7 linked regions of the Homo sapiens genome follow. The protein of the gene in region 1 purifies or fractionates together with the protein of each later gene. This does not show direct contact. Each region holds a gene or a part of one and is shown in the gene's direction. Other genes may lie near its edges. The genes, in order: TRIM25, IGF2BP3, ELAVL1, WARS1, YBX1, TARS1 and IGF2BP1.

What was found.
Region 2: the proteins of TRIM25 (region 1) and IGF2BP3 purify together in Homo sapiens (affinity purification with western blotting; 3 studies listed by BioGRID, with this or other methods). This does not show direct contact.
Region 3: the proteins of TRIM25 (region 1) and ELAVL1 purify together in Homo sapiens (affinity purification with mass spectrometry; 2 studies listed by BioGRID, with this or other methods). This does not show direct contact.
Region 4: the proteins of TRIM25 (region 1) and WARS1 fractionate together in Homo sapiens (co-fractionation; 2 studies listed by BioGRID). This does not show direct contact.
Region 5: the proteins of TRIM25 (region 1) and YBX1 purify together in Homo sapiens (affinity purification with western blotting; 4 studies listed by BioGRID and IntAct, with this or other methods). This does not show direct contact.
Region 6: the proteins of TRIM25 (region 1) and TARS1 purify together in Homo sapiens (affinity purification with mass spectrometry, with the first as the bait; one large-scale study listed by BioGRID). This does not show direct contact.
Region 7: the proteins of TRIM25 (region 1) and IGF2BP1 purify together in Homo sapiens (affinity purification with western blotting; 2 studies listed by BioGRID, with this or other methods). This does not show direct contact.

What each region holds. Positions count from the first base shown.
Region 1 is NC_000017.11:56,886,403-56,890,049, reverse strand, and holds the end of TRIM25 (E3 ubiquitin/ISG15 ligase TRIM25), read left to right. Parts: 3' UTR 1-2,141; downstream 2,142-3,647.
Region 2 is NC_000007.14:23,344,591-23,349,096, reverse strand, and holds part of IGF2BP3 (insulin-like growth factor 2 mRNA-binding protein 3), read left to right. Parts: intron 1-1,362; coding exon 1,363-1,497; intron 1,498-3,034; coding exon 3,035-3,157; intron 3,158-4,506. UniProt on the Homo sapiens protein: RNA-binding factor that may recruit target transcripts to cytoplasmic protein-RNA complexes (mRNPs). This transcript 'caging' into mRNPs allows mRNA transport and transient storage.
Region 3 is NC_000019.10:7,960,077-7,964,582, reverse strand, and holds part of ELAVL1 (ELAV-like protein 1), read left to right. Parts: intron 1-775; coding exon 776-1,100; 3' UTR 1,101-4,506. UniProt on the Homo sapiens protein: RNA-binding protein that binds to the 3'-UTR region of mRNAs and increases their stability.
Region 4 is NC_000014.9:100,354,193-100,358,698, reverse strand, and holds part of WARS1 (tryptophan--tRNA ligase, cytoplasmic), read left to right. Parts: intron 1-4,132; coding exon 4,133-4,252; intron 4,253-4,506. UniProt on the Homo sapiens protein: Catalyzes the attachment of tryptophan to tRNA(Trp) in a two-step reaction: tryptophan is first activated by ATP to form Trp-AMP and then transferred to the acceptor end of the tRNA(Trp).
Region 5 is NC_000001.11:42,695,386-42,699,891, forward strand, and holds part of YBX1 (Y-box-binding protein 1), read left to right. Parts: intron 1-813; coding exon 814-903; intron 904-1,256; coding exon 1,257-1,559; intron 1,560-1,794; coding exon 1,795-1,877; intron 1,878-4,506. UniProt on the Homo sapiens protein: DNA- and RNA-binding protein involved in various processes, such as translational repression, RNA stabilization, mRNA splicing, DNA repair and transcription regulation.
Region 6 is NC_000005.10:33,453,837-33,458,342, forward strand, and holds part of TARS1 (threonine--tRNA ligase 1, cytoplasmic), read left to right. Parts: intron 1-1,108; coding exon 1,109-1,230; intron 1,231-1,750; coding exon 1,751-1,868; intron 1,869-2,165; coding exon 2,166-2,230; intron 2,231-2,312; coding exon 2,313-2,391; intron 2,392-3,420; coding exon 3,421-3,567; intron 3,568-4,506. UniProt on the Homo sapiens protein: Catalyzes the attachment of threonine to tRNA(Thr) in a two-step reaction: threonine is first activated by ATP to form Thr-AMP and then transferred to the acceptor end of tRNA(Thr).
Region 7 is NC_000017.11:49,042,385-49,045,884, forward strand, and holds part of IGF2BP1 (insulin-like growth factor 2 mRNA-binding protein 1), read left to right. Parts: intron 1-1,043; coding exon 1,044-1,166; intron 1,167-1,582; coding exon 1,583-1,702; intron 1,703-2,606; coding exon 2,607-2,681; intron 2,682-3,500. UniProt on the Homo sapiens protein: RNA-binding factor that recruits target transcripts to cytoplasmic protein-RNA complexes (mRNPs). This transcript 'caging' into mRNPs allows mRNA transport and transient storage.

The sequences.
Region 1 (3,647 bases):
CACTCTAGGCAGGCTCAGAACACTTGATATTCCTGACAGCTACACACCTGACATGCAGGTACATACCTGATCGGTGTCATCTCCTAACAAGGATTTTCAGTTCCTCGGGAGAGCAATAATCTTTGTAGGAAAGACATCCCTGCAATAGGTGATATGTGGTCCTTAGAAGTTTTATTCCTTTACTACTTGGAAGAAAAGTTCTTTGGTGATTCTTCTCTGCTTTTGAAGATGATCAAAAGCATCTTCATTGATTTTCTGAAACGAAAGCCTTGTCTGAAACCAATTAATACTTGGGAAACAGCTGGGCTTGGAGGAGTAGAATGCCAGAGATAAATCCATGGCTCCTGCTCTGGCTCTCTTCTGCAGAAATGAGGGCAACAGTGAGGCCACTTCCCTGGCAAATGTGCAGCTCAGGATAGGGAAGCATAAGACCCTCTGTTTAAAAGAGAGTCAAGTAGGTAACCAAAGCCAAGCTCTGTGCAAGGTGCTTTGGAGTTGTAAATTGAGGAGTGCATCCTTGCTGTCTTGAACCATTCTGTTTGCAATGGTGAGACCTTACATAACCTAGCCTTGCAGGGCCGCCACACAACCCTGGAGTCCTAGAGTTGGAGGAACCTTTGTATCCATCTGACTTCTCATTTTGCAGAATATGATGAGAAAGTAGAGGATCGCTCTGTTCACCACTCTTGCTATTCCATTAGTGGGGAGATGCCTGCTAGCATGTGTGAGGGGAACACTCTGATACACTGGGAAGTATCGGAAATTCCCAGAAACACAAACATAAAATAACTCTCCTAGACCCAGGTACTGGGGACTGTCTCAGTCCGTGTGGCATGATAAATAAAAGGTTAGGATCAAGTCTTTGTATTTTTCAAGATGTGGTAGCTGATTATTCCTGTTTTAAGTACTCTGAAATTGATCTGTGATCAATAATACTAATATGTTATCTTTTACCGTATTCTGCCTCTCACTATTGATTTTAATTAGTTAGGAGTATTTGAGCTGTTATTTCTTGAGCTTAATATTTTTTTAGAGTTAACTCTTTAAGGAGATAATCATGGCTGTAGACAAGGCCAGGGCTGGCTGACGTGCCTTAGAAGGTTTGAATGCAATAAAGCGGTGTTTGGCGTTCTCCTGCATTGTAGTGCGGGTACAAAATGCTATTTGTTCGTCATACTGTTGTCAGCAGATGAGCCGCCCACTACAGACGGCTACTGCCCAGGGACCTGCCCAGGCCCCACCCAAGGGCTCCCAAGGGTTGAGATTTCTGCAGACCTATAGCCAGCACACTTAGTCCTGCCCTATATAGAGTTCCTCTTCGGGAAGCTTTTGATAAGGAATTCTCAGACCGATAGGATGTCTGTCTGGGCTTTGCTGCGGGACAGTCTAACTGTGGGGGCTAGGGGAAAGCAGGAGAGTATCGATCAAAGAGTAAGCCACACACGGATAATCAGTTACTAGGGATGGAGGTGTGAGGGTTCATTATATTATTCATTTTACTGTTGTATATGTTTGAAAATGTCTATAATAAAAAGCTTTAAAAAAAAAAAAGAAACAAAAATAGTTCAGGCCAGCAATGGGCCCTCCATGTTCAGTGGATTTTATCCTTGTTTCAATTGGGGTAGGAGTTCCAGGAGGTGTGGATTGGAGGTTGTCTAAAGAATTGAACTGGCCTTTGTCCCTGCTTCCTGGGAGGGAGACTTTCAGTCCTTGACATTTCCAGGGTAATAGGAGTGTCTTTGTTATTTGTGAGGCCATGGGATCACACCTGAGCTTATGCTAAAAGGTGGGATGACTCAGAGCTGGGGCTGGTCACCAGACAGACTGACCATGTGATTAGAGGTTTGAGGCTTTGAGTCAGCCTGACCTATGGGGCGGGGGACTGGAGGCTGAGTTTAATCATCTGGCCAGTGCTTTAATCAGTACATCATGAAACCCTAATAAAAACTCTGGACACTAAAGCTCAGCATAGCTTCCTGGGTGGTGAAGCTGTGGCTATGCCGGCAGGGCAGTGTGCCCTAATTCCACGAAGAGGGGGCATGGGAGCACTGTGCTCAAGACCCTTCCAGACCTTTCCCTGTGTCTTCCTTGGCTTGTGGAGCTGATTTGTATCCTTTATAATAAAACTAATCATAAGTATAGTCCTGAGTTCTGTGATTTTTAGTGAATCATTGAACCTGAGGAAGATCATGGTACCCTCCTGGGATTGTAGGCAGTTGGTCACAAGCGCTGATGGCCTGGGATCCCCACATGGGGCTGGTGTCTGAGGTGAGGGCAGCCCTGTTGGGGACTATGTCCCTTCGCTGGTGGCATCTGATCTAACTCTGCTGGTCGTTGTTAGAATTGTGGTGCGGTACACCAGGTGGTGTCAGAACAGAGGCGGTGGGATCTGCACACCTTGAGTAAGCCCTTCTCGACCAGCCTGTTGGAACAAAACACACTACTCTTCATGGGAGCCTCCTGAGTTTCTTCTCACCTGTGTGAAGTCCCCTTTGTTTACTGTCCTGAGTTTTGTTCTCGCTCATCTCCAACCCCTCTTGTAGTTTTTTCTTCCTCACTGTCACTGTAACCATAAAAATACTCAGTATGTCAGTGATAGACTTGTCTTTCTATTCAGAGATGACTCTTCAACTGTCCGGGGACACTTTTTTCCAATAAAAAGTTCAGGATGGTAATTTGTGACTCCTTACTAAAGGCAAGCTGGGAGTGCGTGTGTGTGTGTGTGTGCACGCATGTGTGGTTTTTAAGTCATTTGTGGTCTGCTGGGGTGACCCATGGGCTAAGTTTGGACTTGCTCATAGGTTTTACATCTGTTTTCTCATCAGTTCCCAGGCAGTCTTGAAATGCCATAGCATCATGAATAACCGAAGGATCTCCAACCGTTATTGACCTTGGAGTTGCAGTCTACCTGTATTTTATTGTAGATCAATTCCAATACATAAAATACAGGAAGACTCTAAAAAAGCAAATCAAAGAGTGAAGGGGAAATGATACATTTAAAAAGCCTATTTTAAAGGGGGCAATTTGGAATAAATGCACACACAAAATGGGTCCTTTTGCTGATGCCTCTGCTGCCTTATTGAGCTGTATGTCCTTATTCCAGGCACATCTCCTTTCTGAGTCTTAACTTTGCCTGCATTAAAGGTTCCATGAGGACCAGATGAAATTTTTGAGGTAAAAATAGGTCGACATTTAAAATATGGTGCATGTGATTACTCTACCTTCTCTACATACCCATACACACACCTGCATTTTGAGGGAAATCTAGTTGGGGGCTGCCTTGGGAACTAGGACACAGCATTATAGCCAAAGGGCCTTTTCTCTTAACCAAGGCATGTTGGCATTGCCACCACTCCCTTCTTGGGGTCACATTCTCCACAGAGTTCCTGCACCCAAGGGCTGTTGACATTAGGTGAGCCCCACCTACTCCCTTCCCTTGTGTATTTGAACTTTGTTCTTCTCCTTTCTGCCTCACTATATCCCCTTCCTCCCTGCCAGCTTCCTGAGCTTGTTCCGTGAACCACAGACAAGCCATTTGCATGCCCAGGCTGTGCTGAGCCCTGTTTGCTGTCCTTGGCACCCTGTCCCTGATCTGGGATGGCAAAGCAGGCAGGTGTTCTCAGATGGCTTCTAGGGATCCAGCCACA
Region 2 (4,506 bases), on another chromosome or scaffold:
TAAATATGTAAATTAAAAAGTTACCATTCGTCTCACCTGGGTAGCTGTTGGTAAGTTGGGGATGTATCTCTATAGGATTTGTTGCCTGTATCTACTAACATGTGTGACTTTAAAAAAGAAATCATGTCATGATGTGAATTGCATTATTTCACTTAAGGACTTTTTACTGTGTTGGTACTTGTAATTTTACCACATTTTCAAAAACATCTGTATGATATGAATATACTGTTATTTAACCATCTCTTCCCGCAATTAGATAATTCTAATTTTCTATCTGTTAGAAACGGAACTTTCCCATGCCAGTGGTTCTCAACTACAAATGATCATCTCTCTGCCCCAACCCCCGTAGACATTTGGCAATGTCTGGAGACATTTTTAGCTGTTAGAGTTGAGAGAGAGGCATGCTACTAGCATCTAGTAGGTACAGGCCAGGGAAGTTAGTAAATTTCCTACAATGCACAAGACACCCCATCCACAACAAAGAATCTGGCCCAAAAAGTCAGTAGTGCCAAGGGTAAGAAACATCACTCTTGACCCATGTATGAGACTATATCTGTAGATGTTACCAGGAGTAGATGTTACAAGAAATACAGTTCTTGAGTCACAAGGTGCTCAGCATTTTGCTGACCAGTTTGCTCCTACCAAAAGTGTTGAGTGTGCCTTGTTACCCATCATCTTGCCCATATTTAATTTTTTCTATCTCAATTTTTGCAAGTCTAGAAGAAAATGACATTCTTTTAGCTGGCAGACATATAATTACTAGTGAAATTAAACATCATTTTGAGTTTATTGGCCACTTGCTTTTCTTGAAGTAGAATTGCCATCTGTCCAGGTTCCATTCCTATCACTGTTCGTTGCAGACTTTCCTCTATCAAGGAGGCAAAATGTGGGAAGAACCTTGCAAAGGGGAAGCAGATTGGTGAAATCTGCTCATCCAATGAATGAAGAATGATATACTGTGCAGAATAAGCAGTTCAACTTGGCTTATGGGATTCCAACTCCTCTCTTGGCATGCCCTCCAGTTCCTATTTGTTTTAGAGCAGATTGAATCCAGGCTCTTTGTCATGAGACATTTGTTCTGTGGCATCTGAAAGGAAGCTGTAAGCACAAACAGCTTGGGTAGAATGAAAAGATGTCCCCGCTTGGTTGGATTGAGGAAAGAGAAAGGGGAATGTTCCTAGAATTAAAATTTGCCTCTTAAGGCATTAATGTTGACAGCTTATTGAAAGTTTATGCTCTTGAGGGAAGTGAGTCATCTGCTTTGCCCTGAAGCCCTATGACTTTGCATTTGGTAATTACAGACTCCACTGTGAATACACGCTTACTGCTCTCGTTTTCCTCTCTGCTTGCGCCCACTATCAGAATCGATGTCCACCGTAAAGAAAATGCGGGGGCTGCTGAGAAGTCGATTACTATCCTCTCTACTCCTGAAGGCACCTCTGCGGCTTGTAAGTCTATTCTGGAGATTATGCATAAGGAAGCTCAAGATATAAAATTGTGAGTAAAGAAGATTGTCCTGTGAAAGAGGTTGATATTTGTGCTCTTGTATTTTTGACATCTCTGACACAATTCTTGGGAATTGCCAACAAACAGAGGGAAATGATATCCTGATGAGCTACAGTGGTTGGCACTGTTGATCTGGTTGTGAAGTGTATGTCTTTTAATATTTAAATATTTTCATTCACATTTGAACATAGGCGAGTGGTGATAACGGGGAAGAGAAATGCAGCTATAGAAGAAGGCAACTTGGGGAACCTAGGACCAGGAGGTATCCTGGATTAACCCAAAACAGGAGCCCCAAATCTTGACTCATCCTTTACTCGGAGCTCATTGGAGCTCTGTTCTTGTCCACTGCCTGGCCCCACCTTGGAGCAGCAGGGAGTGTGGAGGTGGGGAAGTGCCTAAGTCTCTTCTAAGGCAAACTGGAGATTTATCTGGGTAATGCAGGCGGGAACTCTATTTCTTCCACAGGAACTTTGAGTGAAGGTTGGGTTCTGTGCCACGTTTAGCGTACAGAACAGCGCTGCACTGAAAGTAGAATCGAGAGTAAGGCACTGGAGTTAGTGTGGGGACCTCATTACCAACCTTAATTTGTAGAGAACTTTAAATATGTTTTAGTAATATTATATGTGGGTGCCATATCATAAGAATGTAATTATTAAAGTAAAAATTTTAAAGAAGAATTATTTTAGTATAGAGAAAAATAGGCCTGGTGTGGCGACTCATGCCTGTAATCCCAGCACTTTGGGAGGCCGAGGCGGGTGGATCATGAGGTCAAGAGATCAAGACCATCCTGGCCAACATGGTGAAACCCCGTCTCTACTGAAAATACAAGAATTAGATGAGCGTGGTGGCATGTGCCTGTAGTCCCAGCCACTTGGGAGGCTGAGGCAGGAGAATGGCTTGAACCCGGGAGGCGGAGGTTGCAGTGAGCCGAGATCGCGCCACTGCACGCCTGCCTGGCGCCAGAGGGAGACTCTGTCTCAAAAAAAAAAAAAGAAAGAAAAAGGAAAAGCCCACCATCTATTAACCACAATGACATTTTAAACAGTTTTATATATATATGACTGGGAAATTCAGAAAGCTACAAAATGAAAAGTGAAAGCTCCCCTTCCTGTTCTTATGCCCTTCCCCCAAAGTGTAACCACTGTTGTTTCTTCTGTTTCCTTCTATAAATTATGCACATATCTCCAGGTGTATATTTGTACTGGATGGTACTGTTTTTTATTTGTACGTTGTGTTCTGGTAGTAGGGGTTTAGGAATATGGTTTTGAGTAAGAGACTCCATCACTGAAGATATTTCCTGAAGTGAATAAAATAAGAACTATTTTAGAAGTTAACTTCTGTATTTTTTCTCCCCTTCTATTCATGCATTGCTAGAATGCTGGCCAATTGTCAGCAAGTTTTAAGCTGTACCTAACACAGTGCTTCCCAGATGGTAGGTAGGAAGTAAATGTTTAATGAGTGAATATTGTCTTTTTACCCACGAATAGGTTTACTTATTCTAATTTTATGGCCACTTTTCTATTTACAGCACAGAAGAGATCCCCTTGAAGATTTTAGCTCATAATAACTTTGTTGGACGTCTTATTGGTAAAGAAGGAAGAAATCTTAAAAAAATTGAGCAAGACACAGACACTAAAATCACGATATCTCCGTGAGTGCTCCTTTGCTTTTGAATAAGAAAACTTTCCAACACTGTAAGCTGCATGTTGTGTATTGGGCTTAGCTTCCCACTTTACAGCTGCTTCAGCTAGCCTGTGCTGCCGTACTTACACATGGTTTCTCAAATACAGCTTGCTGCCTGTTAGGTTTCTGACCCGTATTGAAAGCATTATCTGCTTCTGGCAGGAGGAACCAAATGCTTTACATTCATGTTTTCTAAAGCAGTCTTAACTATGTTTTATGACATTTATTCCCAAAGTTGGAATATATAACCCAGTTTATTATCCATTGTCGTGTAACGCATTATCCCAACATTTGACAGCTTAACACAATGTGAACATTAATTGCTCAGCTAGTTTTTGTGGGTTAGGAATGCAGGAGCAGCTTAGCTGGGTGGTTCTGGCTTGGGGTCTCACAATGCTGCTGACAAGTTGATGCTGGCTGTTGGCAGAAGGCCTCAGTTCCTCCCACATGGGCTTCTCCACAGAGCTGCTTGAGTGTTCTCAAGACATGGCAGCTGTCAAGATGGAAACTGCAATGTCTTTTATGACATAGCCTCAGAAGTTATACTCTATCATTTTTCTAATGTTGTTTACACAAGTCAGCCCTATTTGGTATGTATGTGTGGGACTACAGATAACTGGGTGACAGGAATCACCTTGGAGGCAGGCTACCACACTTAGAATCTGTGGATGCTCTGAAATTACGTGGAAAGGTTTTTCTGAGGGTGGCCATTCTTAGTTTCACTCAGAGTACTCAAAAAGGTGGGAAAAGATTGATGAACTGAGGAAGAGTGGTAGGGGAAAGACTGCACGGTGTTTGTGTACAAGGAGTTTTCAAAGGAGGTAGTAAGGAAGCAGGAAACTTCTGTTTGGTTGTAAAGAAAGGGGGAAAAAAACCCCACAAAGTGGTAAATTCAATAAGTAATACTACTTTGTCTTAAATTTACCCCCAGAAAGGGGAGAGTTTTAAAAGAAAAAAATCTCAAAAGTTATTCTAGAAGCAGCTATTTTTAAAACTGTAATACAAAATGCTTGGCAGGGCCAGGTTGAGACTGAATTAGAATTATAGACTTCTTTTTAAAGTAGTCTAAGAGAAATAGTCTTCATTATACAAATGTTTACATTTTTAACAAGTTTGAGGAAAATGTTAAGGAATAACTTCCCATTCATCTGGCTCAAGGTTAGCCTGTGACATTATACTAGTAGTGAAAATGAGAACTTCAGGAAGATGAAGGAGATTTGTACCAATAATCCATATCCTCTCAATTTATGTACTTAGTTCTGTTTTCCATGGCACATGTCTCCCATTGCTTTTCCTCTCAAGGCTGTTGACCAGCAT
Region 3 (4,506 bases), on another chromosome or scaffold:
GATTCCGTGCTTGAGCCACCATGCCTGGCCCAGAAAGGCTTATTTTTTATGTAAATAAAAGTATCACTGTGGAAAGAGCCCCACGTGTGTGGTCAAGTTTGGTGAGCCTGCCGTTGCTGGTGTCCCAGGGCCCTTCCCTGTCCCTTGAGTTCTCAGTCCTCAGTGGTTTGGCCCCTGACCCTCAGGGGATGTTGAGCTCTAGCCACAGAGGGTTGGTTGCCTGGTGCTTGGGAAGGAATTCTTGTGCCCTACAAGTGGCCCTGGCAAAGGCGTGCTCTAACCAGAGACCACTGGGCTGTCAACGCTTGGGGGCGGGTCATGATAAGGGGAAGGTGCAAAATTTGGAAAAAGGAGTTCAGCCCCTGCACGTACCCCACAGTACGAGGAGAGTTTCCTCCAGGGAGAACTGAGGCTGTCAGAGGCCTGCAGAGCATTTCTACCTTCAACGGAGGACCAGGAGAAGCGCCCATCATCTAAAATGTGGGGAACCGCAGGAACCCCTAAACAGAAACCCCGACATACACAGTGGGAGGAGTGGAGGGCACCAACCAGCCCCTCAGAGTCAGCTCCCTACAGAACAGGGTCCCGCCCCTCCACTACTGTATTTAATTCCTCCCAGGGTTTTGACCCATGCAGGTGTCTCAACCGTGAGCACCTCGTGGCTGCGCAGAGCGGGATGGGGCCCAGCGGCCATGGTCAGCATGCGTCCAGGCCTTGCCCCATCCCCAGGCCGCCTGCGCTGACCGTGGCCTGACGCTTGCTCTCTGTCTGCCAGGTTCTCCCCCATGGGCGTCGATCACATGAGCGGGCTCTCTGGCGTCAACGTGCCAGGAAACGCCTCCTCCGGCTGGTGCATTTTCATCTACAACCTGGGGCAGGATGCCGACGAGGGGATCCTCTGGCAGATGTTTGGGCCGTTTGGTGCCGTCACCAATGTGAAAGTGATCCGCGACTTCAACACCAACAAGTGCAAAGGGTTTGGCTTTGTGACCATGACAAACTATGAAGAAGCCGCGATGGCCATAGCCAGCCTGAACGGCTACCGCCTGGGGGACAAAATCTTACAGGTTTCCTTCAAAACCAACAAGTCCCACAAATAACTCGCTCATGCTTTTTTTTGTACGGAATAGATAATTAAGAGTGAAGGAGTTGAAACTTTTCTTGTTAGTGTACAACTCATTTTGCGCCAATTTTCACAAGTGTTTGTCTTTGTCTGAATGAGAAGTGAGAAGGTTTTTATACTCTGGGATGCAACCGACATGTTCAAATGTTTGAAATCCCACAATGTTAGACCAATCTTAAGTTTCGTAAGTTATTTCCTTTAAGATATATATTAAACAGAAATCTAAGTAGAACTGCATTGACTAACCAGTCCCTCTGGATGGTGGTGAACCTGAAGCATGCTTTAACCTCTAAGACTGTCTAACACGCGTTTCATTCAATGTCTCCACAGACTGGGTAGCAAAAAAATCACCTTTTAGTTTTAGTTTTTAATCTAAAGATGTTAGACAGATGCTGAGTGTGCGTTTTCTCAACCGCTTCAACATTGTAAGCGATGTATGCTTTGGTTGACAGGAAGTTCCTTTTCCAGGCAGGTCCCGTTGCCACCTCCTGCTCACTCAGTCCCGGGCTCTGCCGAGTGGTCCTGGGAATGGCGGCGGGCCCGTCCAGCGTGGGCCACCACTGGGGCCGGGGGCCACGGGCTGCATGCTGGGCGGGCCCTCCAGAGAAGGACACAAACGTGTTTCGTAAGCCCAGGCACCAATGGGAATGGACCAAAGAGTTTCAGGGAAACTCCAGTATATTCCAGAGTCAGATCTAAGCTCCAGGCACGCCTGAAGATGTGTTGCTACTCTGACATCCCGAGTTTCTGTCCACACATTGCATGCACAGCGCCCCACACATTGGATACTGTTGTTCACGATAATTTCTCCCGTTTTCCAGAGCATTTAACATAGCTTGGAGGCGTAAAATGGCTCTGTATTTTAATAACACAGAAACATTTGAGCATTGTATTTCTCGCATCCCTTCTCGTGAGCGCTTAGACCTTTTTCTATTTTAGTCGGATTTTGTTTTGGAATTTTGCTTTTGTATGAACACTCAGCAGAAAAGTACTTACTTCTTGCCAGTTATCTATTAACCAAAACCTTTGATTTGTAGTTTTAAAGATTAACCCTCAAAGTTCTCTTCATAACTGCCTTGACATTTTGGGTTGTTCTGTTCTGTTAATTTTCTTTTGCTTTTTTGTGTTTTTTGTTTGTTTTTACTTTTGCATTTAAGACCATTAAATTTGATTTTGTTTTGCTCGAATTTTGTTTTGTTTTTTATTTTACCTTTTCTTTCTTTTTGGCTAGGGAAGGTGCAGGTGGCCCAGCATTCAGGGAGGAGTCGTAAGATCTTAAGAAACCAATCCTTGCCTCAAGCAAAAGCATTTCTGAATCTGTGACGCAAGAATGTGCAGTTACAGGCTGGTGGCTTTTAAACCAGGAGCCCGGAGGAAGGGTGAAAGAGAAAGCCTGTGAAATAGGCAGGGCCAGATCACCCAAAACTCCTCAGGACTGGGATCTGGCGTTTATAAATAACTAGTTTACAGAGAGAATCACAAACAGGATAACTTAGTACCAGCAGTTTTTAACCTTGACGTGAGACTAAAACGTGACCGTAGGCTGTTTTTTAGTTATTGCTCTCATGAGATGATGGCTGTATTTATCTGTTTATTTATACCTATTTATGTATTTATTTATTGAAGTGTGAAATTGAGCAATAGGCAGGCACCACCGTCCCCAGAGCAGGTCAGCGTCTCGAGAGGCCCCTGGACAATTGAGGATGCCCATCCCCTCCCCTTTCCCTGATCTTTTACTGAGGGGCTGTGTGCGCGATCCTTGCAAATTGATGATGTTGCCATCCGTACCCAGGCTGTGTCTCATAAAAGTCGGCCTGGTGCCAGAGAGGACCTCCTTTCTCCCACAGAATCCCAGATCCTCAGGAAAAGCCAAAACCGAGGCCCATTGCCCGGATTCGACACAAAAGAGGGTCCCTGCTCTGTTGCCCGAGAGCAGTCTGCATCCTGGGACCAGAATGCTTTCCTGGAAAAAGAAGCCTTTCAGGTTTCCCTGGGCCAGCATCTTCTGATGGAAGGTGGGAGCCAACACCCTTCTGATGGAAGGTGGGAGCCAACACCCTTCTGATGGAAGGTGGGAGCCAACACCCTTCTGATGGAAGGTGGGAGCCAACACCCTTCTGATGGAAGGTGGGAGCCAACACCCTTCTGATGGAAGGCGGGATTCCCGCTTCTGAAACTCCCCCTGGAGTCTCACTCCCACACATGCCCATAGCTAGCATTCAACAGAGAACTCTGTCTTAAGCTTCAACTGTGAAAATGATGACGGGCTTGTAGCACCTCAGCTTCTTTCCTCGCCCCCTTTTATCTGAATCCTATCAATTATTCTGATGCTGGGACAGGTGAGAAGAAACTGTGAAGTATATGAGCCTTTGAAAGTTCCCTGAAGTTTCTCAGTTCAGGAACATTCTCATTGTATGTGGTCTCCGCTGTTTGAACAGCCTTCTAGCTAAAAAATTCCAAAGCCTTTATTTGGGAGTCTTAGCTTGCAAGCTTGTGGAAGGATTTAGCTTAACAACTGTCACTCCTGAAAAGCAATCTCTGTTCCATCAAGGTTCTAGTTGCTGGCCCTGTGTCCTCAAAGTTCATTACATCTTATCAAGGCCTGTTTGCAAAGGGGAGATCCCTTTTCTTAAAAAAGGCTCAACCCAAAAGAAACCATTTCTTAAAAAATTTTACATAGATCAGTTGTATTTCTATTTAGCAAAAATGAGTGCTCTGCTTTTATTTGGGAATTTCGATGAAAAAGCGTTCAGAGTAGATAATGTTCATTTATCAAAAATCTGGTTTGGGAAATACCAAAGAGGCTTTGATTGAATTCCCTTTTGACCCGTGTGTAACTTCCTCTGGTAGTTAGACCCCAGGCAGCTCCGAATTTGTGAACCTGCTTCCTGATGAATTCTCCCTTGTTCCCCCTTGGCTCTGCCATTATTTCGTTTTCAGTGTAATTTGCCAAGCCGCAGTTTTCTGTGCTGGCTGTGCCTCTAGTCGCAGCTCTGTGACTGATTCCCTCCCGGGTGCTGAGTCCCCTCCCCGGCCACCATCCTGCGTGAATATCCTGAAATTCATGGGCTTCCTCGGGGGCCCGCCCGCAGGTGGTGCTGGGTGGGTTCCGCCACCTTCTCCTGGAAGGTGAGCCTTTTCCTGGCCAAGGGCAGCTGCCTTAACCTCTGAGAGTCTGCGCTTGGCCTTAGTCCTGGAGACCCAGCCTCCAGGGACTGAACCGTGCTGCTGTTGGGAGCCAAGACCGGCCCTTTGGAGCCGGCAGCCCAGGGGTCCCTGCTGGATCAGAGAAATAGAAGCACCCGAAGACGGTTAGTGGCAATTCCTTGACCCGGTTTGCTTCCAAATGAAGGCCATTTGTCCACCAGGCATTGAAAAGACAT
Region 4 (4,506 bases), on another chromosome or scaffold:
TTTTTAATTTTGATGAAGTCCAGTTTATTTTATCTTTGATTGATTGTGTTTTTGGTGTCATATCTGAGAAACCACTGACTAATCGAAGGTTGTGAAGATTTACACCTATGGTTTCTTCTCAGAGTTTTGTGGTTTTAGCTCTTACATTTCAGTTTCTGATCCTTTTTGAGTTAATTTTTGTATATTTGTGAGGTACAGCTCCAACTTCATTCTTTTGCTTGTGGGTATCCAATTGTCCCAGCACTGTTTTTTGAAAAGACTATTCTTGGCTGGGCGCAGTGGCTCATGTCTGTAATCCCAGCACTTTGGGAGGCCAAGGCAGGCGGATCACGAGGTCAGGAGATTGAGACCATCCTGGCTAACACGGTGAAACCCCATCTCTACTAAAAATACAAAAAATTAGCCAGGTGTGGTGATGGGCGCCTGTAGTCCCAGCTACTCGGGAGGCTGAGGCAGGAGAATGGCATGAACCCGGGAGGCGGAGCTTGCAGTGAGCCGAGATCGCGCCACTGCACTCCAGCCTGGGTGGCAGTGAGACTCCGTCTCAAAAAAAAATAAGAAAATGTGAGTACTCAAACATGGTTCTTTTTCAAGATTGTTTAGGTATTCTGGGCCCCTTGCATTTCCATATGAATTTCAGCTTTTCCATTTCTGCAAAAGCAGCAGCTAGGATTTTGATAGGGATTGCACTGAATCTGTAGATTCATTTGTGGAGTATTGCCATCTTAAAATATTAATTCATCTAATCCATGAACATGGGATGTCTTTTCACTTCTTTGATTTCTTTCATTGATGTTTTGTAATTTTCAGTGTATAGGTTTTGCACTTCTTTGCTTAGATTTATTCATTAGAATTTTATCTTTTTAATGCTATTCTAAATGGCATTTTCTTAATCTCATTTTGATTGTTCATTGCTACTATATAGAAATACAACTGATGGCCGGGCACGGTGGCTTACACCTGTAATCCCAACACTTTGGGAGGCCGAGGCGGGTGGATCACTTGAGGTCAGGAGTTCGAGACCAGCCTGACCAACATGGTGAAACCACATCTCTACTAAAAATACAAAATTGGGCAGGCATGGTGGTGGGCGCCTGTAATCCCAGCTACCCAAGAGGCTAAGGCAGGAGAATCACTTGAACCCAGGAGGCAGAGGTGGCAGTGACCCGAGATCGTGCCATTGCACTCCAGCCCGGGCAAAAAGAGCAAAACTCCCTCTCAAAAAAAAAAAAAATACAATTGATGTTTGTGTATTAATCTTATATCCTGAAATTTTGCTGAGTTTATTAGCGCTAATGCTTTTTTTCTTTTTGCAGATTCGATAGGATTTCCTACATATAGGATTGTATCTCCTATGATTAGAGACAGTTTTACTTCCTCCTTTCCAATTTGGATTTTTTTTTCGTTCCTAATTTCTCTGACTTCAACTTTCAATAGGATGTTGAATAGTAGTGGTGAAAGTGAGCATCCTTGTCTTATTCCTGATCTTAGGGGAAAAACTTTCAGTAAAGACTGAATATACACCATTTAGTATAATGTTAGCTGTGGGCTTTCTATATACCCTTCAACATGTGTTTTTATTATGAAAAGATGTTAGATTTTATCAAATGCATTTTCTGTGTTTATTGAGATGATCATGTGGGTTTTGGCCTCTATTTTATTAGTATGGTGTATCACACTGATAGGTTTTTGCGTGTTTAATCAACCTTGCGTTCCTGGAACAAATTCCACTTAATCATGGTGTTGAAAATCAATTTATTTTCAATCATAGTGTATAATCTTTTTTATATGTTGCTGGATTTGGTTTGTGAGTTGCTGAGGATTTTTACATCTGTGTTCATAAGGGATATTGGTCTGTAGTTTTCTTTTAATGTCTTTGGTTTGGTATCAGGGTAATACTGGCCTCATAGAATGAGTTGGGAAGTATTTCTTATTCAATTTTTTTTGGAAAAGCTTGGGAAGGATTGGTATTAATTCTTTTTTGAACATTTGATAGACTTTACCAGTGAAAATGGGGTTTTGGGCTTTTCTTTGTAGGAAGTTTTTTGATTACTAATTCAGTCTTTTTGTTTGTTCCAGATCTGTGTATATTTTCTATTTCTTCTTGGGTTCGTTTCAGTAGTTTGTTTCTAGGAATTTGTCTATTTCATCAAGGTTATCTAATGTATTGGTATACAGTTATTCATAGTATTCCCTTATGTAGTAATCCTTTTTATTCCTATAAGGTCAGTAGTAATACCCCTTCTTATATTCCTGATTTTGGCCGTTTGAGTCTTCTCTTTTATTCCACACCCCCCCCCACACACACACACACACCCAGTCACTTTGGTTCAAAGTTTACTAATTTTGTTGGTTTGTAGTCAGCATTTTTTATCTTAGCATGGCATGGTTCTTCTCACTGCCTTTGTGACTTATTTATTAACTGCAGTATAGTAATACTGTAGCCTCTTGGCTTAGGAAAGCATAGGACCTGAGTCATTTGCCCATTCTCAAATTTCAAACTGCCCCTCTGTCTAATTTTGTCATCTGTAAAATTGGGGATTAAATGAGATCTACTATGCACAGTCAAGCTTCAAGTGGTGGGCAGGTAACTGGGTTCCCTTAGTAGCTGAATGAGTCTCTGCTGGAATCCATCCTCATAAAACATGATCTCAAAATTGGAACCCAGTAAATTTCTGCACGCTTGTCAGGAGCACCTCACCCCAGGACCGAGCACACAGTGAGTTCTCAGATGCTCCACATAAACACAAGAAAAGCAGCTCGTGGCACAGTTACATTTTTTTCTCTTCTGTAAGCCCATATGGTTAGTTGTGAGAACCAAAGAAGGATTCTTTCCTTCCAAAATTATGGGTTATTTTCTTTCCTTATTTCAAAAGCAGTATGTGAGCATTTCATGGGGAAAAAAAATGAAAACTAAGCCCAAAAACCAGAACACCCACAATTGTATCTGTCCAGAGATAAGCAATGTTGACCCTTGGCTTGGGGAATATAAGGAGAAGTCACTTTCAGAATACTGTTCTCTAGATTCTCCTATCCAGACCTCTGGAAAAGGTAGTTATTCCTCTTGTATTTGGGGACACTTTACCCAGAAACAAAGGACATTCATCCTCGAGCGTTGGTTTCCCACCCTGCTGAACATTGGAACTCCTCACGGAGCTTTTTAAAAATACAAATTCCCGGCCAGGCGCAGTGGCTCACACCTGTAATCCCAGCACTTTGGGAGGCCGAGGCAGGCAAATCACGAGGTCAGGAGTTTGAGACCAGCCTGGCCAACATGGTGAAACCCCGTCTCTATTAAAAACACAAAAAATTAGCTGGGCATAGTGGCAGGTGCCTACTATGCCCAGCTACTCGGGAGGCTGAGGCAGGAGAATCGCTTGAACCCAGGAGGCAGAGGTTGCAGTGAGCAGAGATCACACCACTGCACTCCAGCCTGGGTGACAGAGTGAGACTCTGTCTCAAAAATAAATAAATAAACAAACAAACAAACACATTCCCAGAGAGCACCTCAGATCCATTGAATCAGTCTCTGGAGGTGGGGCGCAGGCAGCTGTGATTGGAAGCAGCCTGGTAGGGAGGGGGATGACTCTTGAGTGACTTGCAGATGAAGATACCTAGTCCCAAGCTGGCTGAGGGGCCCAGATAGATCTCCAACTGGGCACTTGACCTCTGAACTCCCAGAGGACAATTCTTACTTTCCCTGCTAAGCCAGGACTGTCTGGTCCCATGCAGTTTGCCTGGTATTGGTCTGAGAGTCCTCGGGGCTGGGTGATTCTGAGCAAGGATCATATGGTGTTGGCCTGGTATCCCCAGGGAAGTGTACCAAGCTCACAGTATGTCGGCACTGATGTTTGGAGGGATTCCAGGAGTCCCAGTAACTGCATAGCTGGATCCATCTTTTAAACACATTATTCCAAACCTACACATCTTGTCTTTTAAAACACTCACAGGAGAAACCATTTCAGTAGAAGTTTCCTGTCTATATTTATATCATAAGCACCAAAGGTAACAAATTCTAGTTATTATCCATGTTGTTTCGTCTCTGTCTATATTTTCCATTTCCAAAAGTGCATTAGTGCCTTGATATTTTTCTCAGAAAATCACACTCTTCCTCTTCTCCTTTTTCCTTTAGAGATATGAATCAGGTTCTTGATGCCTATGAAAATAAGAAGCCATTTTATCTGTACACGGGCCGGGGCCCCTCTTCTGAAGCAATGCATGTAGGTCACCTCATTCCATTTATTTTCACAAAGTAAGTATTGGATCTTATGGCTTTTCTTACTCTCTTAGTGAATTGAGAATGTTGCTTATAAACCATGTTTAGAACTGACAAGATCATGCTAGTTCATTTGCTGAGCAACCAAGATGTCAAGAGTTGGCACTTTTTTGGCTTCCATTCACTTTGTTCCTGGGCTCACTTTAGAGGACCATGGAGTGATGGGGAGAGCGCAGCTTTGGAGTCAGCCAGGCCTGCTCCTCTTCTCATCCTGCTCCCTGTCTGCATGG
Region 5 (4,506 bases), on another chromosome or scaffold:
ACCTTGGGCAAGTCACCTAACTTTAAAGCCTGTTACATTATCTGTGTAATGGGATTAACAATACTTTCACATGTCCTGTCTCATAATGAGATTGAATAGATAGTAAGTGAAAGAATGTTGCAAAAAAATTTCATAGAAACGTGAGATGTTACTCTTCCTCCCTTCTCTTAACAGTCTGGAGAAAGTAGAAGCAACAAGTCTCTAATACAAGATTTATTGAATTCTGGGGAGGTGATAACTAACAATTCCATGCAGTCAGATCATATAAAGAATGACATAGTTAATACACATGAATTGCATTTCCACTGATGTATTATCAGATTGGAAGGGATTTTGGTTGACATTTGTAATTGAGTTTGATACGGTAACACAGGGGCAAAGTTGGTTTGGTCAGCTTTGAAGCATGCAAAACCAAACTCGCCTGTCATCTAAACTGACGCAGTGTGGGGCCACCTTCTCCTATTAAGTGCAGTCCTCAGGGGATAGATGGATATCCTCATTTGTTAAAAGTTATATATAATGCTTTTGCAAAAAGCAGTTTTTAAAATGATGTGTCTGTCTTGAGTGTTAAATTACTTGTTTTAGTTTTGTAAATAGTGGTACAATGCTGGGGCCTTGTATGATTGGAGTGTTTTTGTTGAAGTTGGGGATAGTGTGGTCCCCGCTTTCCTAAATTTATTGATGGTTTGGTCTTATTTAAAGCAAATCTTAAGTGTATATCCAAGCTAAAATAATATTGACTCTGGTACATTTTAAATGAAAAAGCACATTATTCTCCCCTGTTAATCTATTTTTGGAATGTGATATTACTAGACTGCCATAAAGAAGAATAACCCCAGGAAGTACCTTCGCAGTGTAGGAGATGGAGAGACTGTGGAGTTTGATGTTGTTGAAGGAGAAAAGGTGAGGATGCTTTTTGTGTAAAGGTTTGACTTCAGTATGGAAATATTTTGGAGGTCTCATCCATTAGGATGGTGGCTCTAATGTGGATGGATGTGTTCAGGTGACCTCATGAACACAGGTGCATCAAGCCTAATGTTCTGGCTGCAGTTAGAGGGCAATCTCTTCAGAACAGTGAGGAACTGATATTTAGTCATTTCTGTGCACCCCTGGTCACGCAGTTGCGCCCCCCCCCCCTTTTTTTTCCTTAACTTTGTTGTTTTTTGCTTTGTTTGAAAATGTTCTGATTTCCTTTTGAAAGTGTTGAAAGTGTTCTGATTTCCTTTGTCACTATCAATATGTAATGGCTTTTGTAGGGTGCGGAGGCAGCAAATGTTACAGGTCCTGGTGGTGTTCCAGTTCAAGGCAGTAAATATGCAGCAGACCGTAACCATTATAGACGCTATCCACGTCGTAGGGGTCCTCCACGCAATTACCAGCAAAATTACCAGAATAGTGAGAGTGGGGAAAAGAACGAGGGATCGGAGAGTGCTCCCGAAGGCCAGGCCCAACAACGCCGGCCCTACCGCAGGCGAAGGTTCCCACCTTACTACATGCGGAGACCCTATGGGCGTCGACCACAGTATTCCAACCCTCCTGTGCAGGGAGAAGTGATGGAGGTAAGTTTCACCATCAACAACAGCAATGTGATAAGTTCTGGTAGGACTGTTTAGAGCTGTTAATTATATGGAAAGCAACTTGGATTCCTAGTAAGAACCAAAAGGATTAATTTATAATGTAGTCACAATTACTAGATGGTCTGTTTTGTTTGTTTTTTAACTCTTGGATTTATCTGGTTGGGTTTTTTTATTATATTACTGACCCAGTAGGCTTAATTTCCATTGTCTTTTTCAGGGTGCTGACAACCAGGGTGCAGGAGAACAAGGTAGACCAGTGAGGCAGAATATGTATCGGGGATATAGACCACGATTCCGCAGGTATGGTCCACGTAAACATGTTTCTATTAAAATTTCCTCAAACCCGTGTTAGGACTCAGCAATATCATGCCTCTCCTGCAGACTCATTTTTCTGTTAACACTTCACGTTTTCTTTCATCAGATGCCTAAGAGGTGAACCTATTAAAAACAGCTTGTATAGATGAGGTCTGCTTTATACATAAATTTTTTTAGAAAATGATGAGGGTTTGGAATTTCAAATTTTCTGTCCTTGAACAGGTAAGATAATATTTTAAACCACACCTTTTAAACCTGCCTCCTTGGTAGGGAGAAAGGAAAGCATTAGGAGTATCTGAATTGTACCATGGCATTAGTGAAGAATCAACAGTGTTATCACTTGAAATGGCATACATTATCTTCCACTAAACACTTCTCAGTTTAGATATGTACCCCCTTTTTTTTGGAGTTGGGAGTTGTCAGCTCAAAGTTGCAAAATGAAATTGCTCCACCAAGAATTTACATTCTGCGGGGGGAAATCCAGTCTGTCGTTAGACAACTATCTACTTGAGTGGGTATTAGAAATCTTATTAATAGATGTCATTATTAGAGTAATCGAGGAAAAATTCCATGAACCAAGCATATTTTAGTCCATGCCGTAGTATACTTTGAGGCAGTGTTCCCAGTCCCACGGTGGTAGGATAGGATGGTGTAATAGTTGTTTCTCTAAGGGTTTGATATCAAAGCATTGAGTTTTCATAGGTGATCCCCAAAAGCTGACAGGTACCTCTGAAGAATCAAACCAATACAGTAATAACGCATCTTAACTGATCACTTAAATCGCAACTTTTAAATCCCCAAATTTTTAAGTGTCAAGTTTATTATTCTAGAAGTATCCAACATATCCAAAATATACTGTGAGTCTATAAGAGGGGGTTTCTGTATATAGGTTTTTAAATTTTACCAAAGTTGGAGCACTTAGTGAAGTTTTAGGAACTAGGGAATCTAGTCGAGGTTGTATTACATGTATTTATCAGCACATGTACATTGAGAGTTTTGCAAGAGCAGCTGATGTCATCATATTTTTTGTATTAATATGTCTTGTCCTGAGTTTTCAGTTAAAAGAGCTGAGGTCCTAACTGATCACTACCACAATTGAAGATCTCTGATTCAGTTTTCTACCAGGAGATTGTGTTAGCCAGATGCTGGATGTTGAAGATAGATGGGTTTTTATTTTTCAGAGTAGGTCTAAAATAGCCTCTCATGGCAGTCCATCTGTTAAGTCCATGGGTTCCAGCAGCAGAATCTTTGGTTTACCTTTTGTTACACTGAAGAGCTTAAATGTTTTGCCTAGTTTCATTGATGTCCTTAAAAATAGCATAATTTTGTGTTTGTATTCAGTGCTTCAGTTCACCGTTGAGTAAATTGTTTGTCTTTATATTGACAAACAAGCTTGCGGTTGATTTGTCTCTTAGAAAGGTATCTTTGTCCATTGTTACCCCTCCAGTGCAGAGGTTTTTGCCTTTTGGTTTAAGTTAGACTTAATGTCTACGTGTTTCAATGTTTAGAATGCTCAGTCCTGCCAGATAGTTGCAGAAGTAACATAAAATTGCTTGGAAGTTATCAATGAATGCTAGACTTTCCAAACTGTGCAGGAATCTTTTGTTCAAATGAGAGTAAATGAAACATGCTGCCCCTAATGCATGGAATGGTGTGAAATTCTGACTGGTGTGGGTTCAAGAGCAAACTGAAAGGGAAATCTTAAGACAGAGTATAGTACAAGTGTTGCTGAAAATGAGACTAATAGTAGTAAGGGGAAAATGGGGGGTCAAAAAGGGAGGTTTTTTGTTGAGAAATAACATTTATAGGCTGAAATGCAATCCAGGATAACAGTTGATGGCAGGAAAGTGACTGCTGGAACTGTTTTCTTTCTCAGAGAGGGTAGGGTTTTGCCCACAGGTGAAAATGTTGACCTTTTGTTAGGAACCTGCCGTTTTCCTGTGTAAGAAACAAGAATACATGGGCACGCATGTGTTAATGGGAAGACATGGAAGCCTTTGGTTGCTAAATTGAGACGAAAGTAAAGAGGAAGTTTGAAAAGTTTGGGGCAAAGAACCCTCTAGAACAGAAAATAGAGATGGTAAATTTATAAGTAATAGGATAACGATCATAAATTAGAAGTGAGTTCACCCAGCTTGACTCTGTGTTTCTAGCCATTTGGGCATCAGGCTCAGGTTGGGCAGAGAGTTGGATTTATCCAGATTTGGTTTATCCAGATCTGGTTTGATTTATCCAGATCTGGTTTATCCAGATGAAGACACTGGGGTAGGGATTGGTCATATGATTAGTGGTAGACTTTATACTTGGATAAAGAGGGGAGAAAAGGGGAAAATGAGGGTTGTTTTTTTTTTTTTAAATTGTTTTGTAGAAATGGAGTTGCACTGTGTTACTCAAGCAGTCTTGAACTCCTGCCCTCAAGTGATCCTCCCCAAGTGCTAGGATTACAGGTGTGAGCCACTGTGCCCAACCTTGGAGTGAGATGAATAGGTGATAGAATCGCTGTATTACAGGTCCTAGATTAAGAATGAGAAAACAATAAGGAATTACCTAAGAAAAATAGGAAGGTACATAATTGGAAAGTTGAGTGGTATAATTGAAAAAACCCAGGTAGAAA
Region 6 (4,506 bases), on another chromosome or scaffold:
AGCCTCCCAAGTAGCTGGGATTATAGGAGCGCACTACCACACTTGGCTAATTTTTGTATTTTTAGTAGAGATGGGGTTTCACCATGTTGGCCAGGCTGGTCTTGAACTCCTGACCTCAAGTGATCTGCCCACCTCGGCCCCCCAAAGTGCTGGGATTATAGGTGTGAGCCACTGTGCCTGGCCTCTAAGCTATGAACACTCTAGCAAGATATGTACATTTGACAAATAAATTTGAACCTTACTTCAAAGCACTGCCTTTATTGGATAATTTCTGTATTTTTTTCTCATCTTAAGATGCAAATCTGCTGGATAACACTATAAAAGTCAACCTGCATGTGATGACAAGATTTTCTTTTTAATTCTCCATGGCTGTGTATCATATAAGGGGAGACAAAGTATTTTGTTTTAGTGATGATTGTTCACTTATGTATGTGGATTAGTGGTTTTCAAATGTATTTTGGAGCCCTCAAGTTTCTTACGAGAATTTTTTAATGTCACTTTGGTACCTTAATACTAAATCTTGAAAACATTGCTTTGGGTGTATTCTGACTCATCCCAGTGATTACTTTAAAACCAAGTACTGCCATTTGATTTCAGTGTACAGATGTTTGTCCTCGTGTTTTGTCATTGTGTTGTGGGGTCGGGTTGTACCACCTTTGTTTTGGGCCAGTAACAACATGTAATTTCTAAGTGATGTTCCATAGCCAGCTAAAGGCCAGATCACAGTGTCTGAGACATGGTGCTGTGGGCACATTGACTCAAAAGAACCTGGGCCATTGCAATCAATGAGTTAGTCACATTGTGAGTAGCAGTTGTTTTCAGAGAACAAAGTCTATGTCATTTAATTAGTGATGCCAAGTTTAGTTTAATTTGTTTGAAAACAGCTAAACCAGATGATTTCCAAAATAAAAATACACTAGTAATTGGAAGCCTTTTGAATTACTTTGGCTATGGATAGAAACAGTAGTTTATAGATTTAGAAATTTAGGATTTTATATATTGGGTTTACTTGTAGTAAATATTATCATCTGTCTCTTTCAGACAACCACATTAATTGGCAACTTGTATGCCAAGACTCAGACCATGCCATTTTTCTTTAAATTTTCAGGTGTATTGGCACTCTAGTGCTCACATAATGGGTGAAGCCATGGAAAGAGTCTATGGTGGATGTTTATGCTACGGTCCGCCAATAGAAAATGGATTCTATTATGACATGTACCTCGAAGAAGGGTAAGCCATCAACTAGATAAAGAAAACTGAAGTCAATGACTATGGATCCATAAGTTATTCTTAAGAGTTCTCAGTAAGGGAGGAATGATATAGATCTCACTGCTTCTTCATCAGGTATGCCCATTATCAGTACTTGAAGTGTTGCAATTTACCTGAAGTAATAGAGGATTTGATGAGACCTCTGTTCTAGATTGATGGAGGTAGAGTCCTAAGGTATTTTGGGAAATTCAGGGAGACTGGTCCTCCCCTCTCCTTTAAAACCTGGTGATAGAGTTGCGGGAAGGGGTCACTAGTGAGAAAGGTCTCCATGGATGACCAAGGTAGAAGCTACTGAAAATATAAAATGTAAAAATTACTTATGAAAAATGTTTTGTTTAGAATTCTAAGATACGATGCAATAGTCTAATTTTTTAATATTAAAACCCTTGAAGTATTCCAAATACTATTTCCAAATGAACATTTTTCGAAGCCATGGTGTGATTCGAATGGAATGAAAAGATTATACTTTCTTCTCCTTCAGGGGTGTGTCTAGCAATGATTTCTCTTCTCTGGAGGCTTTGTGTAAGAAAATCATTAAAGAAAAACAAGCTTTTGAAAGACTGGAAGTTAAGAAAGAAACTTTACTGGCAATGTTTAAGGTAAATTGAACCATAGTGCGTGGCCCCCACTGTTAATATCATTTATTCATGTTAGTTGAAGTGACACCACTGGCGTTCCGTGTACTAAGCTGAAGTCTAATTGGTTCTTTAGCAAAAATTAAGTGTTTTTATTATTTTTTTAATTTCATTTTTTTCCTAGCAAACCATTCCTTCAACATGTTTTTAAAACATGAAGTATCAACATTTATATTCATACAGTGCTACGTTTTAGCTATAGTACTTAGAAGTAAAAATTAAAGGACAGTTTTTTAAAATAATAATTTTTCCTGTTTTCAGTACAACAAGTTCAAATGCCGGATATTGAATGAAAAGGTGAATACTCCAACTACCACAGTCTATAGGTAAGAATATTAGATGTCATTAAATGTATCTGGTATGTATGTCATTTTGTCTTTGTTAAAATTCCTTTCATTTTATCTTTAGATGTGGCCCTTTGATAGATCTCTGCCGGGGTCCTCATGTTAGACACACGGGCAAAATTAAGGCTTTAAAAATACACAAAGTAAGTAATGTAACTTTAAAGACTGTGAATGTATCTGTCTAGAATAGATATATGTTTAAACTTTCACTGATTTCTCTTTACCATTTTCTGTTGCACATGAAAGGATGGTATTTTCTCATGCTCTCTATTAACTGGGAGCTGTATGCCATCAGGATTTTATAATTGAAATCCCTCAAGGGGTGACTGACTTGCTGTCATTGCCAGAGCAATCACAGGGGATGGAGATTTTACAAAATCATACAGCATGGGCCATCCTGGCTCTATAAAAGCTTTGAGACTCACTGGGAGTATGTGCTTTTGCCCTTTATATGTCTAAATTAATAATTTCCCAAGTTGTTGTTTTTAACAGAACCCAGTTTTATACTAGTTCATAAACATTTTATGGAGGTTTTTAAAATGCACTTTAAATCAAGAGAATAATTGAGTCATTTCAAGATTTTTTTTTTATTGGCTCATTTCTATTTTTGCTCATTTTGTGAGAAATGCCTTTGCAGGCAAAGTAATGTTTGTGGAATTGTGGTTGAGTATTGAGGGGTGGGCAGTTTTGGGGGTATTGGGGTGTAGAATGGGTCTCACTCTGTTGCCCCAAAAAGACAGAGTGGAGGACCACTTGAGCCTGGGAAATGAGGTTGCAGTGAATGGAGATCGTGCCACTGCACTCCAGGCTCAAGCAGTCCTCCTGCCTTAGCCTCCTGAGTAGCTGCGACCATAAGCGCACACCACCATGCCTGGGTAATTTTCTTTTTTTTAAATAAAGAATGGGGTCTCCCTGTGTTTCCCAGGCTGGTCTCGAACTCCCAGGCTCAAGCAATCCTCTTGCCTCGGCTTCACAGAGTGCTGGGATTACAGGCATGAGCCACTGCACCCACCTGCAGATTGAGGGAGGGGCATTTTTGAGGATAGAAAACAGCCAACTTTGTGCTGCAGAATGAGTAACTACTCTAACAAGGCCTCAAAGCAATTGGGAGTTAAAATAAGTGAGATGTTTACAAATTTGAATGTTGTTTCATGGTTAATCCTTGTTTTCAGAATTCCTCCACGTACTGGGAAGGCAAAGCAGATATGGAGACTCTCCAGAGAATTTATGGCATTTCATTCCCAGATCCTAAAATGTTGAAAGAGTGGGAGAAGTTCCAAGAGGAAGCTAAAAACCGAGATCATAGGAAAATTGGCAGGGTATGTTCAAGAACAATGATGTGTCTTGACTGAGTTTTCTTCAACTTCATTTGAAGTTTGAAATTCAGCTGCATGAAGTACTAGGAATTTTGTTTTGAAGAGATGTTGTGGCTTTTTAGTAACTGGTGCTATGTCCTGTACAAACTATAAACACTTACTGATTGTCCACATTATCTGCCTGGAGTATGCTCAGTACCGCACAAAAATGCATTTGAACTACTTTTATTGAGAGCAAACACTGATGATCTACGGTTTTCTGTAAAAGAAGTATAACAGCTTCTCATAGAGCTGGGAGAACTATGGAAACCCTCTAGTTTCACTGACTCATTTAAAATGTGGAAACAGAGTCCCACAAAGATTAACCTACTTGTTGCCCAAGGTTTAGCAGCATGTCGCACATGGATCCTGTGCTATCATTTCCTCTACCCATTATCTCTGTTACTGCTGAATGTCCTCTAAACTGGAAGTTAGGCTAGATAAAACATTCCCCCTTAAAATAGGCACTCTGTGCCAGGGGTCCTTGGCTATTAGGTTATGAAGCTTGAGCTGGAGGTAGCAGCCACTGCCTTGCACCCCTGACTACCTGACATTCCAGCTATGAGGCAGCCAGCAATGATTGATGGGCCCTTCCCTGAGGGCTTTTGGGCACTTGGGGAGGCGGATGTTGGCAAGGAGGTAGGAGGGTGTGTTTCTTTCACCATGACCCAAAGTCAGCCAACTTTACCATCATCTATTTCATTATCAGTGTCTTTTTCCCAGTCTCCTTCCTGATACTCTTACTAAGAAAATAAATACATACATAAATAAAATGAAAAAAGATCCAGATCTTGGAGCTTTAAGGAATTTAAGAACCATGAGAGGTACTGCAGTGGATAGTTAAAGAACTGAAGGGACCCTTATTCCCTGCCACTGTTGGGGAAACTTGACTGGATTGAGGAA
Region 7 (3,500 bases), 7.8 Mb from region 1:
CTGGGTAGTACCCTCTGCTTATCCTTTCCTGAGTCTTAGCAACAGCAGCTTGTGGGGTGCAGGGTGATGGACATGTGCCCTGTGCCGTGTGGCCTTGGAGCTTTAGTTGATGCTTTTGGACTTCGACTATCAGAAATAGTATTTAAATAGTATTTAATTAGCAAGGATTCTTCACCTGGTTCCTAGAGTAGGGGTCCAATCTTGGGCTTTGAGTCCTGTGATTCCAAGTATGTGTACAATTTGTGTTTGTGTGCACTTTATTGAAATGAGGGGGTCCATCGTTTTCATCTGATTTTTATTTTATTTTTTTGAGACAGGGTCTTGGTATGTTGCCCAGGTTGGAGCACAATGGCGCAATCATAGCTTACTGCAGCCTTGACCCCCTGGGCTCAAGGAATACTCCTGCTTCAGCCTCCCAAGTACCTAGGAGACTACAGGTGTACACCACCATGCCCAGCTAATTTTTTAAAATTTTATTTTTTGGAAACAGGGTCTTGCTGTGTCACCCAGGTTGGTCTAGAACTCCTGGGCTCAAGCGATTCTCCTACCTTGGCCTCCCAAAGTACTAGGATTATAAGCATGAGCCACTGCACACAACTCATCTGATTTTTAAAGGAGACTTGGGGTTGGGGTACAGGACCAAAAATGTTTAGAATCAGAGTCCTAGAAGTCCAATGGAGCTCTGTCTCCACGCCTTTTTCTCATATAGGGGGTTATAGTATAGTGTCATGGGTCTATCGTCTGTCTCCAGCAGTCTGAACAGCCAGAGAGGAAGGACTCCTGAGGGTGTACAACTGTTTGGCATTTCTGGTTGCAATTGCTAGCCGTTAGTCCAGTGAGAACATCATATCACTTAAAATTCCACACCCGAAGTGTGTAGGTGAGAGTGTATGAAAAGCACAGAATAGGCTTTTGTGGAAAAGTATGTAATTCATGTTTTTGGCCCACTTGCCTCTGGGGCTACTCGCCTTTTATACAGCGGGGGTCACACACAAGCCCCTGTCAGGGTGTGCTGACTCTTCCTCCTCATCTTTCTTCCCCAGCTGCAGTCTCACCTGATCCCTGGCCTGAACCTGGCTGCTGTAGGTCTTTTCCCAGCTTCATCCAGCGCAGTCCCGCCGCCTCCCAGCAGCGTTACTGGGGCTGCTCCCTATAGCTCCTTTATGGTAGGTGGAAGATCTTATTACACGGGATCCCTGGGCCCATATGTGGCCTCCCTTAAGGGGGACTCAGCATGCTCTGGGAGTTGGATGCTTGGCAAGTTTGCAGGGAGAGGGAAGGAAGGTCTCAGAGGCATCCCTCCTCTCCAGTGCTCCTAGCCACTGGCTCTGAGGCTCCCAAATGTCTGCCTAGAATGCTCCCGGGGCATAGACAGCACTGTTCCCTTACTCTCTCCTGGCCTCTTCCCTTTAGCCCTACTGGGCATAGGAAGAGCTAAAGAGCTCACAGCATCCCTTGGCAGCCCAGGGTGGCGGTTTGGTGCCTGTACTCCTTCCTCCTTGAGGATGCAAGGCAGGGGAGTGGAGGGTTTCTGGGCCATGCTACTTGGGCCCCCTGGTAACAACGCCTCCTATCCTGGCAGCAGGCTCCCGAGCAGGAGATGGTGCAGGTGTTTATCCCCGCCCAGGCAGTGGGCGCCATCATCGGCAAGAAGGGGCAGCACATCAAACAGCTCTCCCGGTTTGCCAGCGCCTCCATCAAGGTGATCTGCTCTGTGGGTCTTCCTGTTTCTGGAAAGGGAGGGGTCTCTGCTTTTATCACTCTGCACTTTCTCCCATATTCCCCCTACTCATTTGAGAATTCTGTGTGTCATATGAGGGACCTTTCCCCCATGGAATCGAAGTCCTCTTTGTTTTTGATCTTGCTTGGTCCCCATGGGATGGCTTCAGTGCTTCTGGGTTTTCAGGCTGGGCAGGGGCAGGGTTATAACATAGAAAGAGAACTTAGGTTCTAACACAAACTGATGGGTTCAAATCCAAGATCCATCTCATCACCCCTTCCCCCAATACACTATATGATCTGAGCCTCACTTTCCTCGTCAGTACAATATTATGAGGCTACGCAGCCAAAGCCCTTCGCTCACATACTAACACCAAGTAAGTGTTAGTTGTCTGTCACCTTCCCTGGCCAAGGTCCAGGGGAGAGAGAAGGGAGAATCTGTCATAGTGAAACAAGGATGCTGTTAGAGTTTCACAAACCTAAATCCGGTTGCTTTAGTTGTCTTAAAAGCTTTGAGCAAAAACCTTGATTGTTCTCCAGTGGAGGTGCAGTCACTGCCCTCTATCCGTTGGTCATTTCATTTGTGTCCTTGCCTGTTGGCAAGACTCCACTGAAACCTCTCTGGGAGATTGGTAGGTGGAGGGGGCAGGAGGCCCTACTTAGAAAGTGTCATTGAAGCCAATCCTTCTAACTGACCACCTCTGCCCTCCTAATAATTCTGGTGTGAAGGCGTAATGATGTGGGCTTCAGGGTCTTTGTTCTTCCTCCCCTAAGTCTTCAGAATGGGTAGTTGGGAGTAAGGGTGGTAGAAGGGGAACTGGATGAAGTGGACATGGTGGGGGTCTTCCCATAGAGGGTCCCTCATTGACTAGCTTTTTGCTTTTTAGATTGCACCACCCGAAACACCTGACTCCAAAGTTCGTATGGTTATCATCACTGGACCGCCAGAGGCCCAATTCAAGGTTTTGGTCTTTATTGTTTTCCAAGCTGAACATGGAGGAATTGAGGTTGGGTATTTCCCCTGAGGTAGGAAAAAGGCTGGGTCAGTTTCCCGTTAGCTGTCAAGTCCTCATCACATCTTTAAGCCTTCCATGCAGGATAAAGGGCTGCAGAGCTATTTTCAAATTGACATCAAACTGGATTTCTGTTGACTTCGTCTTCCCTTTTTAAGGTCCACAGAAGAAGATGGGAAGGAAAGAAGTCTGAGGGCATCTTATTTGCACTCTGCTGTCATTTCTAAGGAAGGCCTTTAATGCCAAATTCTCATCTTTTATGTCCCCACTAAATCCTAAGGTTCTTGAACTTCTGATCAGACAGCCAAAAAATGAACCATCAACTAGCTTAACCTAACATATGTGAGGATAGAGGACTGGGACAGCTCTCTGGGCCACTGGAGAGTCAGACAGGCCTGCCCTCTGTGTGACTTGATTAGTTGCCATTCAGGGCCTTGAAATGCTGGTCAGTGCCACGTCCAGATTCCATAGGTCTGGTTTGTAGCTTGTGAATTAGATTCCTCTGGGAACTATTTTTTCCCTTGGGAAGTGTTTATTCAATTACTCATAACTCATAATCTCCACCCAGGGTCTCCAGTATGATAGCTAAGCAGAAGGAATGCTGACAAGCTGCCCACCTGAGCCTTGCCCTTCACCTGCCTTAGATGGTTAGCCCGCCTAGGATGGGGAGGGCCTGTGGGCCAGAAAATATGGGCTGGAGCTTCCTTTTTCCCACTTTTCTCTTTTGTCACAGATATATGAACCACTGATTAACAATTACCTCCTCTT